Homo sapiens: one gene and its partner. The protein of the gene in region 1 interacts with the protein of each later gene in a biochemical or structural test. Each region holds a gene or a part of one and is shown in the gene's direction. Other genes may lie near its edges.

Region 1 (5,730 bases):
ACCTAACCCCATGCCCTTCACCACCGTAACTTTATTGCTAACATCATCATTGTACTCAATCCTCCAAAAACTCCTACAAAGTGGGTATCATTGCATCCCTTTTTTTTTTTTTTTTTTTTTAGAGATAGGGTCTCACTCTGGCACCTAGGCTGGAGTGCAGTGGCACAATCTCAGCTTACTGCAGCCTCTACCTACTGGACTCAAGCGATCTTCCCACTTCCACCTCTAAGTAGCTGGAGCTATGGACAGGCACCACCATACCTGGTTAATTTTTTGTATTTTTTTTTTTATAGAGATGGGGTTTTGCCATGTTGCCTGGGCTGGCCTCAAACTCGTAAACTCAAACAATCTGCCCACCTTGGCCTCCCAGAAAGCTGGGATTAGAGGCATGTGCCCGGCCACACCCCATTTTATAGATGACAGAATTTGAGACTCAGAAAGGTTAATTAATTTGCCTAGGGTCACACATCTAGCACATGCAAACCTACCTGTGTCATGCTCCAAACGCCTGGCAGGGAGGAGACGGACTTACGAGTTTCAAACACGGTTGGTTTTCACCCCTGAGCTAGTCAGGCAAGAGTAGAGTCAGCCAAAGAAGACTAGGTACACACCCACCACACACAGAACTCCCATAAAAGTCCCAGTGTCTGAGGCAGAAGCCTCAGAACGTTAGTGAGAAACAGTGTCCACCAGCAGCTCTCTCAGCCTGACAAATGGAAGTCATTAGCCCAGGCCACCGGAAATCTGAGCGGTGTAAAATATGGCCGCAGGACCAGGGGCCTTGACTGTTTCCGCTGACAGTGTTGTTAATATCTCCATTTTAGTGGGTGATTTGTCTCCACCTCTTCACGAGTGATGAATCCACTGGCACTCTGGAACCTTTAAGCCTGGGGTAAAGGCGGCTAGAACATTCTCTTTCTTCCACCTTTGCTCATTCTCTCCCAGAAAAATGAATCACACTCTTTTTTTTTTTTTTTTTTTTTTTTTTTTTTTTTTTTTTTTTTGAGACAGAATCTCACTGTGTCGCCCAGGCTGGAGTGCAGTAGCATGATCTCGGCTCACTGCAACCTCCACCTCCCAGGTTCAAGCGATTCTTGTGCCTCAGCCTCCTGAGTAGCTGGGATTACAGGCATGAGCCACCACATGTGGCTAATTTTTTGTAATTTTAATAGAGACGGGGTTTTGCCATGTTGGCCAGGCTGGTCTCGAACTCCTGACCTCAGGTGATCCGACCACCTCAGCCTCCCAAAGTACTGGGATTAGAGGTGTGAGCCACCACACTCAGCCAAATTACACTCTTTAAAGAGGGCAGGATTGGCCAGGTGGCAACCAGAATCTATCTTTGCAAAGAAAGGAGGGCTTGGCCGGGATGAGGGCAGGGTGGGAATGCTAGGGCAGTGAGAAGGCGTTGAAGAGATGAGAGCTGTTCCCATAGGAGATGGTTTTCTGCTTCCCTTGAGCTGAGAATTGTTTAGAAACTACAGAACAAAGAGAAAAGGATACATTCAGAGGACTTTGCTTGAGAAACTTACCTTCTTTTTTTCCCTCTCTCTCTTCCTCTTTTCATTCCTTCTACGAATATTTCTTGAGCACCTACTATGTGTCAAGAGCCATGCGGTGCAGCAATGAGCATTGCATTCCAAGCTCAACCTTCCTGGGGCCTTTGCACTTGCTGTGTCTTCTACCTGCCCCCACGTTCCCCCACATCTTTGCCAGGGCCTGCTTAAATGACACTCCCTGGAGAGGCCTTTCCTGACCCAGCTCTCAAAAGTAGACACACAAAGCTGCTTTCTACCCTATCTCATTCTGTTTCCTTCCTAGCACTTACCAGGAGATGAACTTATCTTGTTTATTTCTTATCTGTGGGTTTATCTGAGCCTCCAATGAAAGCCCCATAAGTGTTTGTGACCTGTACAGAAGGCCCCACTGGGGTCTGCCCCTGGCATCTTTATAGATCTTCCTTTGCTCACTGAGGGATTCTCAATCTGGGATGCCCTTCCCTTCAGTGACCTGCTAACTATGAAGCACTTATTCTTTTTTTTTTTTTTTTTTTTTTTTTTTTGAGATGAAGTTTCACTCTTGTTGCCCAGGTTGGAGTGCAGTGGCATGATCTCAACTCACTGCATCCTCTGCCTCCTGTGTTCAAGTGATTCTCCTGCCCCAGCCTCCCAAGTAGCTGGGATTACAGGTGGCCACCACCACGCCCAGCTGATTCTTGTATTTTAGTAGAGATGGGGTTTCACCATGTTGGCCAGGCTGGTCTCAAATTCCTGATTTCAGGTAGTCCACCCGCCTTGGCCTCCCAAAGTCCTAGGATTACAGGCGTGAGCCACCACGCCCGGCCTCCTCATTCGTTCTTCAAGGTCTGGGTCTCATGCGCTTCTTGTCCCCTGAGACACCCCCATCCCATTCACTTCTACCAAAAAAGAGGCTGCTTCCTCTGGCTGGCTCCCATGACATTTTATTTACACCTGCCTTAATGATTTCTTTACATTCTTCCTAAGGTAGTCTTATTTATTATCTTTTAAACTACTGAGAAACGCCAGCATTCTTTCTTCCATATACATGCACATATATATACAATTTGTCCTGCATCCTTCCTTTTTCCTATTTACCTAGATATGTCCCTAGCTACTCAGGAGGCTGAGTCAGGAAAATCAGTTGAGCCCAAGAGATCAAGGCTGCAGTGAGCCATGATCTGCATTCCAGCATGGACAACAAACTGAGACTCCATCTCTAAAATTAAAAAAAAAAATTAATGAAACGAAATTCAGCTGGGCACAATGGCTCATGCCTGTAATCCCAACACTTTGGGAGGCTGAGGTGGGTGGATCGCTTGAGCCCAGTAGTTTGAGACCAGCCTGGTCACCATGGTGAAACCCTATCTCTACAAAAAATACAAAAATTAGCCAGATGTGGTGGCATGCATCTGTTGTCCCAGCTACCCGGGAGGCTAAGGTAGGAGGATCGCTTGAGCCTGGGAGGTTGAGGCTGCAGTGAGCAGAGATCATGTCACTGCACTCTAGCCTGTCTCAAAAGAAAGAAAGAAAGAAAAAAAAAACTCCACATCATGACAATAACTTGAAGCAGGTACCACCTGCTGCAAAGAAAAGGAAAAGATAAAAACGAAAGCTATAAAGAAAACAGATTAGTGTCATCTGACCTGGCTAGCTACAGTGGCCTGCTGAAGACTCTCCAAGACCAGCTCTGTTTGTTCACAGTGGAGACTGTCAATGCTGGGGAGGGGTTCCAGCACCGAGCTGTGACTTTCTTCTTGAAGTAACAGGATTCAGAGCACTGCAGCCTCCAATTCCCGGCCTCAAGCAATCCTCCCGCCTCAGCCTCCCAAAGTGCTGGGATTACAAACGTGGGCCACAGTGCCCAGGCAAGAACAAATTTTTAAAAAGGAATCGCTTTCCCATTGTGCAATTTAACACCATGTCAGTGCACCGCCTAAGACCACGCTGGTACCAACAGAGGCGAGAGGGTCAAACAGCGAACACGCTGGGCAGTGCTGGATAAGCCCGTCAGAGCAGGCTCTGAATAGAAATGGTTGGCCATACTGGTGGGTACTGGCCAGATGTGGGTCTGCCAGCAACATCAAGTGCCCCATAGTTTGGGAAGTCCCCACGTGCTAGACTTAACTGGGTTGACTTCTCACATGCCCTCTAACCACAGGCGTGGAACCCGGGGGCAGGGGCGGGGCCATAACCTTGTGGCTGGTGTTCTGTGTTTCAGCACAACATGCCTTTCTGGCGGATATCCTGCCACGCAGACCTGGAGGCACTGAGGCACGCCCTGGAGCTGGAGTATTTATAGCAGGATCAGCAGCATCTCCACCTGCCATCTCACCCTCAGACCCCCTCGCCTTCCCCACCTCCCCACCGAGAACTCCAGAGACCCAGATGTTGGACACCAGGAAGGGGCCCCACAGCCGAGACGACGTGTCCAGTGACCATCTCAGAAGCCGTCCATCAGTCCAAATGGGGGTTCTGAGAAGGAAAGTACCCAACATTGGCTTCGGAGTATTTGACTTTGGGGAAAAGGGCTGGCTCGGAGTCTAGACTCTTCTGTAAGACTCACAGAACAAAAGCAAGGAATTGCTGATTTGGGGGGTGCCTGGTGATGAGGAGGGGATGGGTTTGTCTTGTCTTCTTTTTAATTTATGGACTAGTCTCATTACTCCGGAATTATGCTCTTGTACCTGTGTGGCTGGGTTTCTTAGTCGTTGGTTTGGTTTGGTTTTTTGAACTGGTATGTGGGGTGGTTCACAGTTCTAATGTAAGCACTCTATTCTCCAAGTTGTGCTTTGTGGGGACAATCATTCTTTGAACATTAGAGAGGAAGGCAGTTCAAGCTGTTGAAAAGACTATTGCTTATTTTTGTTTTTAAAGACCTACTTGACGTCATGTGGACAGTGCACGTGCCTTACGCTACATCTTGTTTTCTAGGAAGAGGGGGATGCTGGGAAGGAATGGGTGCTTTGTGATGGATAAAAGGCATTAAATAAAACCACGTTTACATTTTGAAGTGGGGTAGGATGTGGTTACTTTATTACCACTCTTGAGGCTTCCAAATGTGTTGTCCTTTTTAAAGACTTTATCAGTTGCAGAAGAATAGAATCCAACTCACACTGGCTTAAGCCAAGAAAAATGGGGTGGGGGGAGGGAGGAAGGAGAAGAGGGAGAAAAGGAGGGAGGCAGAAAGGGAGGGGAAGAAGGACAAAGGGACAAGTGTCTCCAGGAACTTTAGGTGGTATCTGTCTGGATCCGGGTGGTCAAATGAATTTCTCTCATGTGGCCGTAATTCTCAGGCAGGCTGTTCCCTGTGTGGCAAAGACGGCTCTACGAGTCCTTCAGCAAAACCACACAGACAGAAAGAGACCACATTCTTCACCGTGGTGCAGCGAAAGCCTCAGGACTGTAACTCGTTGGCCAAATCTGAGGCTTAGGCAACTCACGGAGCTGGATTTAGGGTTGGATCCTGTCACGAACAGCAAGTTGAACAAGCTGATCCTCCAAGGGAAAGAAAATCAGTGAGCTGTTATTCAAAGAATTGGGGGAATTGAGGGTCGGGCTGGAAAATGCAACTGACTTCCGTTCTAATGGTAGGACTTCATTTCCCAGTGGATGGGACATGAGTGAAGGATCCAGTTTAAGGGGCAAGGAGGGAAATCTGGAGAAGTTCTGAAGACATCTGGAGCACTGCCACTACCCATAGTGGACCAGGCAGGACCTGGGTCTATCTGATTGGATGCTAAGCAGGAATATAGGCTCCTTCCTTATTAATGCTGGTAAAATCGTGGATTATCAGTCAGCTGACCCATGTCATGGGAGATGGAGATCTCTGCCACTGGAGTCTCAGAGCTAGAATCTCTGATGATTAGAAAACTGTCACCGGCCAGGCATGGTGGTGTATGCCTGTAATCCCAACACTTTAGGAGGCCAAGGCATGTGGGTCGCTTGAGCCCAGGAGTTTGAGACCAACCTGGGCAACATGGTGAAACCCCGTCTTTACAAAAAATACAAAAATTAGCTAGGCATATAGCATGCGCCTGTAGTCACAACTACTCAGGAGGCAGAGGTGGGAAGAGCTCTTGAGCCCAGGAGGTTGAGGCTGCAGTGAGCCAGGTTCACACTGCTGCACTCCAGCCTGGGTGACAGAGCAAGACCCTGTCTCAAAAAAAAAAAAAAAAAAAAGGCATCACTAAGGGTCAGATAGACTCCCTTA
Region 2 (8,617 bases), on another chromosome or scaffold:
CCTAACTGTTTATTTAGTGTCACCCTGCATTACCGTCACTAGCACTTTCCTCTGAACAGGAGGAGCTGCAGGCTTTCACCTCCCAAAAGGAAATTCTTTTTAGCTTAGACAGATGTGGTATTCAGGATGTACATAAGTTGAGAAAAAAAAGTTGATTGGAAATTCAATGGAAGATAGCGGTTTTGGAGAGTTTCATTTCATAAACCTGCCCTAAGGAGACATTTTAAAAAACAGGGAATGGGGGGTGGGGCGCAGAGTCCCTTTAATTCTTAAGAATTGTTTCTTGTGACACCTTGGCTCCACTTTCCAGAGAGGTAGTTGGCATCTGATGTTGAGTAGGGTCTTCTAGCTCAAACCTGGCGATTGGTCAGAGCTTTCTCAGAGGGCAATTTGTTAACCCTTTTCTCCCCTAGGTGGCCAATACACCTTTGCCCGCCCTCCGTGCAGGCTACACCATCTATTGCCCGCCCTCCACTCCCTGTGAAAGGTTCTCGCCAAGTAAGGCCTACTACACCGCCCAGACTTGAGGGTCTACTTTCAAGAGAACTTACCTGCGCTGCCTCAGTGGGTGACATAAGCACACTCTGTGAAACCTCACAGCGCCCAGTCCCGGAGAGAAAAAAACGAGCGCCCAGAGCCGAGGGGAAGGGAGAGGGAGGGAAGGAGGAAGAAAGAGGAGGATGAGAAGAGGAAGAGGAAAAACAATGAGAAAGAAGAGAGAGAGATAAGGAGAGAGAATGAGAAACAGGTTCACATACAGACAGAATGAACGAGCGTCCTCTTTCAGATGGAGAAAAGAGTTAGAGACACACTCTGGGAAAGACCTGCCACGGGGACACACGTAGAGGGAGAGAGAGAATAACTCTTCCAAAGACACACACCCCAGCTCTGTTCCCCTCCAGTCTGAGCTCCCTCCCAGTGCTTGACCCTCAGTCGGTCCATCAGTCTGTGTGTGTTTCTCTCTTTCTCCCTTCCCTGACCTCGAGACAATACGGAGATGGTATTTTCGGGAGCCGCGCGGGGCGGCAGGGTTTTCAGCGGCGAGCCAGGCTCACAGCTGGCTCTGTTTGTCCAGGTGTGGGCGGTGGAGGTGGTGGGGGGCGTCAGTCGCCCTGAATCTTGGGCCAGCGCAGCGTTTTCGCACCAAAGAAGTAGGAGGCTCTGCTCTCGAGCTTCCCGCTTCCAGGAGAAAACTTCCTCCCTCCATACATACATAAATACACTTGGGGAAGAGACAAATCTTCATTGTTCAGAAATAAGCTGAGGAGGCCCGCCTGCTCCCCTCAGCCAGGCAGAGCGAGGCAGGGAGGGAGGCGGGGGCCGCGCGGATCCGGTGTCACGTTGCAGATTCCCACTAAAGATAACGAAACGTGATCTATTTTTCAGAACAGCAAGTGGATGGGAAAGAACCTTGACAACACAAAACTCATTTACTAATGGACTGGTTTTGGGTTTCTCTTCTCTGAGTCCGCAAATCTCTCTGCCTGAGCCCCAGGCCTATTCAGACCTCGCGGGGAGCGGCGTCCCCCAGGAGCAGGTGGGCTGCTGCTCCGGCGCCACGCCGGCCATCGGAGCCGGAGTTCCCAAGGGTCGAGGGCACCCGGAGTTTCCGACTAAGCAGAGGAAAAAGAATTTTGGCACTTCAGCCGGATTTGGGGAGTCTCCGCACTGCCCCAGAGCGATGACACGAATTTATTGAAGAAACACCTCTCTATGCCCTCCCTTTCCAAATATTTGTAGGTAGAGTAGAATCCTCACCGTCGTTCTGGATGGTGAAAGAATTCCAAGAAAGCGGCCCGGGAGCCCCTAACTATCTTGCTACAAGCCAGAAGGGAAACAAGTGGGTCCCAGCTAGGGGTGTTTGCATCAAGGCCTGTCAACCCAGCCGAGAAACCCTAGCAACAGCTAATGCTGTCCCACTGAATGCTTTTTCATCGACTAAAGCGCACGCGGCCGTTACCTGCACAGAGGAGGCACTGGAGAGCCGAAACCTGGCATCGGGCGCTCCTTGCCAGCGGTGTTCCCTCCCGAGCCGCGCTGCAGCGAGGGCAGCAGCCGGCTGGCTAGAGTTGCTCATTTCCTTTAAATCTCCAACGCATCTCTGCTTTTCGTGCGATTTGCATTGACAGCAAAGGTTTTATGTTACGAGAACAACTCAAACCTTTCTGTGTGCGATTTAAAATGGATCATTTAGTTTAGGTGGTTTGTAAATTCATGTCATTTTACCTCTTTCAGCGGTTTTCAGTGAAAGGTTCCATTTTGGGAAACCTTATATATCCGAGCCAATAATTAACATTTATAACAATTGGTTCCCCTAACCGAGGGATCGAAATAGCAGGTAGACTCCTTGGTATAAAGCGCATAGCACTTTCCCTTTCCAGTTACGCGATCTATTGGATTAAGCGGGAGGAAAAATGTTGGCCGGCCCAGTCACGGCCTCCGAGGAAGAGCACCTCTTTTCTGCCCGGGTTCCCGCAATCACACCTTCTACACGTCGTCTTCCCAGATGACGGCAATGTAGTACGTCCTGGTTCCTTTTGAAGACAGATAAAAAGAAATGGGCAGGTAGGTCTGGAGGAAGCCGGGAAAAAAAGGTGGTCCTATTTGTGTCTAATTGCCATCTCTGCTGTCATCCTCTGTAAATTTATACCTGCCCTTATTTGTGCAGGCTATGCCTCATTTCCTTATACAAAATTGTTAATTACAAAGCACACCCCATACTCAACATACTGTTTGTCTTTTAAGAGACGTGGTTGTGCTTAAAGACCCTCCCCCCATTGTAATTGTGCGCACTTGCTCCAGACTTTAGGGTATTAACTGATTTTTAGAGCCGGGTTTAAGCCTCCGTTCCGGTCCTCACACAGCTGCCATGTCAATAAGGACTGTTTCAAGCAGAGGCATTCCTTCTGGGAGGGCACTGCAGCTCCTTAAGACTTCATGTGAAACATCATAAGCACTAAAATAAGACAGTGAGGGGAAATTACCAGACATGGCTCTGGGTTTAGCAGTGCCAGGCTTCCAGTTTAGAAAGTCATTGGGCATACTATATGGCAGAGGCTCTTTTGAAAGCATGCACACCTATTAAATGCATTTTTTTAAAAAAAAAGCCTAAGGTAATGAAATATCAGCATCTGCTTCCAAGATCTAATTGCATGGAATAAGCAAGAGTTTCAAGGATGCAGAAAACATTATGTTCAGCAGAGAAGCAGCTTCCTGTCTACTTGGAATCTCCCATGTGGCAGCCCTGAGGTGGGAACCCTTTATGAGTTTAGAATGTATGTTGCAGGGTGCACTGTACTGGGTGCATCATTTTAAAACCATATTAATAATAAAAGAGGAAACCAAGACATGCTTCTCCTTCTCCCACTTGCATCTCAATATGCAAAAGGTTCTGTAGTGCTGGGCTCTTTGGCTAAAGGAATCAAAACATATTTGAAGAAGACAAGCCAGTTTAAGGAGCCTACAGTTTGTTCTTCACCACTCACTAAGAGGGCACATTGAAATCAAAAGCATTTTTGAAGTGTACTTAGAATTCTGTTTTGAACTTATCTAATCAGAGATAAGTATAGTCATAAAGTCACTCTCCTTCCACCATTTGGCTTCCCTTATCTCCACGCATTGTTCTTATCTCCTGCTAGTCTCAGCTACTGACAATAGATTATCTTTGTTTAGAGAGGCTAATTGTTTTCAAAATCCTTTTAATTATTGCTTTGGAACTAGGTGTGCAAATGAGGCTTAAGATAATTACAACTTCACTTGTTTGTGCAGTTTTACTAAGCATTCTCCACACATAAACAAAACAGCAGATGATGGGACTTAAATTGCAGTGCATCTCTCATTCCCTGGCAGCAAAATAGGCCAGCATTGCAACACACACACACACACACATACACACACACACACACACACACACACCTCTTTATTTAATCTTCTTGGAGCCGCTGTCGTTCTCGCTTTGAGGGCAGTGTCCCTCTCAGAGCAGGGTAAGGATTATATTACAACCGGACGGTTATTGGAGCCGGGCACAGTTTTATTTAATTTACACCACATCCAGCGCCTTTCGTACGAGGTTCCCAAAGCATTTTTGCTAATAGCAAGTAAAGCCTCTCGGCATTCCTCAGTAGCAGAGGTGGCACTGCAAAACACAACCGCACAGATGGGGAAATTGAGTCCAGAAGCTTCAGGAACCTGCTGGTTTCAATCGCAGAACATTAAGATACCAAATCACAAATGAACGCTCGGAGTCTCTAGGTGCTCAGCAAGTATGCTCTAAACAGCTCTCTGCCTGGTCTCAAATCATGGAGGTCTTTTGTGAACGAGGGAAACGCTGTCCGACTGGGAGTACTTGTGCCCTTTGGAGGGTGGTGTGCAGCAGTGGGGGGAGGACAGTGGTAGTTGGTGGGGGGAGGGAGGAGGAAATAGGGTTGGACTCCTCGAGCTGAAGCCAACCCGAAGCCACTCTTCCAGAGGCTGCATGCGCGGACCCTGGTCTGCTCTTGAATTATTTATCGCGTTCCATAAGCTATTCATCAATCCATTATTTATTCATTCCAACATTAAAGTAATTAAATATGAGCTCACCGGGAGAGGGCAAGTCTGCAAGGGATGAGGACAAGAGTACGGAGGGAGAGGGGAGGAATTAAGGTTTGGAGTCATTGATTTGTGCGGAGTTGTGCGCGACTCCCCTTAGGTGATACTGGCGACGGGTCCCGCGTTGCAGGGTCCTGACGCGCTCACCCACTCCCTACCTCCCCACACCTCCGCAGCGCAGCTCCCTCAGACCCCAACTGGCTTCCCACCTTTCCTCTTCCTTCTCCTCCCACCACTCCCTACCCGCGCAGCCCCGGCAACACCCCCAACCCCCAGCTCCGCAGCCTCGCCCTCCCCGCTCTGGGCGGTGCGGCCTCTCTGCCCAGCCGGGCGGCGCGCTGGCTGGCCAGCCCCGGATAGGCGCCGCCGGCAGCCAATCAGCGTGCCGGGGACGCTGCGCGCTTTAAGGCCGCTGCGGGGAGAACAGAAACCAAGTTCCCCGGCAACTAGCAGCATCCACCGGGCGGGAGGTCGGAGGCAGCAAGGCCTTAAAGGCTACTGAGTGCGCCGGCCGTTCCGTGTCCAGAACCTCCCCTACTCCTCCGCCTTCTCTTCCTTGGCCGCCCACCGCCAAGTTCCGACTCCGGTTTTCGCCTTTGCAAAGCCTAAGGAGGAGGTTAGGAACAGCCGCGCCCCCCTCCCTGCGGCCGCCGCCCCCTGCCTCTCGGCTCTGCTCCCTGCCGCGTGCGCCTGGGCCGTGCGCCCCGGCAGGCCCCAGCCATGTCGATGCTGCCGTCGTTTGGCTTTACGCAGGAGCAAGTGGCGTGCGTGTGCGAGGTTCTGCAGCAAGGCGGAAACCTGGAGCGCCTGGGCAGGTTCCTGTGGTCACTGCCCGCCTGCGACCACCTGCACAAGAACGAGAGCGTACTCAAGGCCAAGGCGGTGGTCGCCTTCCACCGCGGCAACTTCCGTGAGCTCTACAAGATCCTGGAGAGCCACCAGTTCTCGCCTCACAACCACCCCAAACTGCAGCAACTGTGGCTGAAGGCGCATTACGTGGAGGCCGAGAAGCTGCGCGGCCGACCCCTGGGCGCCGTGGGCAAATATCGGGTGCGCCGAAAATTTCCACTGCCGCGCACCATCTGGGACGGCGAGGAGACCAGCTACTGCTTCAAGGAGAAGTCGAGGGGTGTCCTGCGGGAGTGGTACGCGCACAATCCCTACCCATCGCCGCGTGAGAAGCGGGAGCTGGCCGAGGCCACCGGCCTCACCACCACCCAGGTCAGCAACTGGTTTAAGAACCGGAGGCAAAGAGACCGGGCCGCGGAGGCCAAGGAAAGGTACGCGGCGTGCTTCCCGCGACTCGGGCGACCCTAGGAAGCCGTCCTTTCTCCTCCGCCCCCTCCCGCCCCCGCAGGCACCAGCCACCAAGTCCTCCCCGCCGGCCGGAGCCCGTCCACGGGGCGGCGCGCAGGCCCTCCGCGGCGCTGCAGCGAAAGTTCATGAACTCTGAGGTTCCTTGCTAAGGATGGGGCCTCATTTGCTTTGAGCACCCGCGCGTGGGTTTCTCTGGGATGTGAGTGTCGGGAAATATTGGCGCTAGATTTGGTCTTTATGCCTCCCTGGCTGGCCGCGGCTATGAGTGGTGGGTGGAGAGTGAGTTTCTAAATCAACGGGCAGTGAAATGTTGATTGGTGTCGCAAGGAAAGGGGTTTGGTGGGAGCTGAGGTTCGCGAACCTCTCTCCTCTTGCTCCCCAGAGGGGTGAAGCTGGCCTGAGACATTGGCTCTGCCCCCACTCCCGCCTGGTTCTCCACAGCTCTCTCTTGATAGTCTTTTGGTTTAGAGGTAGCCTGCTTCATTTCTCACTAGCTGGACAAATGGAGGAGACTTTTAAAGATACAACAAAAAGAGAGCTTTGGGGAGAGTTGGCGCTGCATTTACTCCCCGGCGCCCCAAATTAAGAAAGGGTTGATCCTCGCCGTGCTCGCTCGCGCGTGGCCCGGCACTGCAGCCCGTCGGTCTGGCTGACCGCGCCGCATGCCCAGACGAGGAAAGGGTCTCCAGTCGCAGCCCTCTCTCGCACTGGAGCTCACAAGGCAATATTTTAAAAATTGGTCTCTACTTTCCCCCACCTCGGGGCAACACCTTCGGCCACCTGGGCAGGCTCCTTCTGTTCTCTATAGCGTTTCGGACAGAGATTCAGAAGGACGGTGGGGAGGTGGCTGTGGCGGGGAGAGCGCTCCGCGAAGCCAAAGAGTTTGGGGGAAAACCTGAGCGCAGGGGCCGGTTAGGTTTTCCTTTGTTCGCTTCCAAGACTAGGGGCCGAAGATCTTGCTCCCTTTCTTGTCTTGGTGGAAAACCAGAGCCAGGATAAATTCTGCTGAAATGGGCTTGTCGGGAGACAGAGACTGTGAGGATAAGGGGAAAGAAAGGAGACAGACAGGCGCTAGGAGTCGGGAGGACTGACGAGCACTCGGAAGGCGGAAGCGGCGAGGGAAGCGAAATCCTGAAGTTAACCGGTACCGAGTGCCCGGACTGACGCCCCAGCGCGCCGCGCCCGCTGGCAGCCTGTGCGGGGCGGCGAAGTTTCCCCTGCCCAGAAAGGATGGGTTGGGGTGGGTGTTGGTAGGAAGTTTGAGAGGGGGACACGAGGGGCTGAAGAGTTAGCAAGTAACACAGGAACAGGGATTGTATGGTTGCAGTTAGCCTTTAGTTACAAAACGGCCGTCCTATAAGCCAGGCCCGAGGGCCGACTCCAGATGAAATCAGAGACTGGCTGCGCTCCCTGTGTTTACTCAGGTCACTGGGCCGCGCTGGGCACCACTTCCCATGACCTGTTCTGTGTCTGCAAAACCACCAACTCTGGGCTGGGGCAGGAAAACGGGATGTTTAATTGTCTCCTCATATGCGAACAAGGCAATGGACTTGATTCACCCCAAACATTTGTGCATTGGACTCTGTCCTCTATCATTTCTTTATCACCAATATCTATTTATTGAAAGATTTTCAGTTACATTTAAATATGTTGCTAGTTTATATGTATTTAAATGTAACTGCTTGAACAAAATTTAAAACATATATTTTGTATGTTTCAAATAAATCCTGCTAATCTATCACTTTCTGAAATCTGGAAGAGAAAAGGACCTGGCTCCTAACAGGAGGCTCTGTCCGTAGCTCTCCATTTCTCCAGGTTCCTCTGACTCCTCACCTCCCCCATTACCCTTGGGGATGGGTGGAAGGGTAGAGCTCCTCCATTTGGGTTGGTGACAGATTGCACAATGGCCCTTTCCTCCTTCCAGCTCCCCTCCCTCCATCTCACACTTTTTTTTTAACCTACTTTTTTTTTTTTTTTTTTTTTTTAACCATATGGTGTTGTCCTCTATTTCTTAGGGAGAACACCGAAAACAATAACTCCTCCTCCAACAAGCAGAACCAACTCTCTCCTCTGGAAGGGGGCAAGCCGCTCATGTCCAGCTCAGAAGAGGAATTCTCACCTCCCCAAAGTCCAGACCAGAACTCGGTCCTTCTGCTGCAGGGCAATATGGGCCACGCCAGGAGCTCAAACTATTCTCTCCCGGGCTTAACAGCCTCGCAGCCCAGTCACGGCCTGCAGACCCACCAGCATCAGCTCCAAGACTCTCTGCTCGGCCCCCTCACCTCCAGTCTGGTGGACTTGGGGTCCTAAGTGGGGAGGGACTGGGGCCTCGAAGGGATTCCTGGAGCAGCAACCACTGCAGCGACTAGGGACACTTGTAAATAGAAATCAGGAACATTTTTGCAGCTTGTTTCTGGAGTTGTTTGCGCATAAAGGAATGGTGGACTTTCACAAATATCTTTTTAAAAATCAAAACCAACAGCGATCTCAAGCTTAATCTCCTCTTCTCTCCAACTCTTTCCACTTTTGCATTTTCCTTCCCAATGCAGAGATCAGGGAAAAAAAAAAAAAAAAACCCAAACAAACAAAAGCACCCAGGCACCCAGTCTGAGTTCTGGGCAACTGATACGCCTGTTTCAGCAGCCTTTCTTTTTTTTCAATGAATGGGAATTGCAAATCAACTGGATTTTCATTATTTCCTTTTAATTTA

Evidence for each region. The genes of interacting proteins can lie anywhere in the genome.
Region 2: the proteins of EYA2 (region 1) and SIX1 form a complex in vitro, tested with the Homo sapiens proteins (2 studies listed by IntAct, with this or other methods).

The regions. Positions count from the first base shown.
Region 1 is NC_000020.11:47,184,315-47,190,044, forward strand, and holds the end of EYA2 (protein phosphatase EYA2), read left to right. Parts: intron 1-3,738; coding exon 3,739-3,819; 3' UTR 3,820-4,530; downstream 4,531-5,730. UniProt on the Homo sapiens protein: Functions both as protein phosphatase and as transcriptional coactivator for SIX1, and probably also for SIX2, SIX4 and SIX5.
Region 2 is NC_000014.9:60,645,883-60,654,499, reverse strand, and holds the start of SIX1 (homeobox protein SIX1), read left to right. Parts: upstream 1-5,022; 5' UTR 5,023-5,310; coding exon 5,311-5,870; intron 5,871-7,922; coding exon 7,923-8,217; 3' UTR 8,218-8,617. UniProt on the Homo sapiens protein: Transcription factor that is involved in the regulation of cell proliferation, apoptosis and embryonic development. Plays an important role in the development of several organs, including kidney, muscle and inner ear.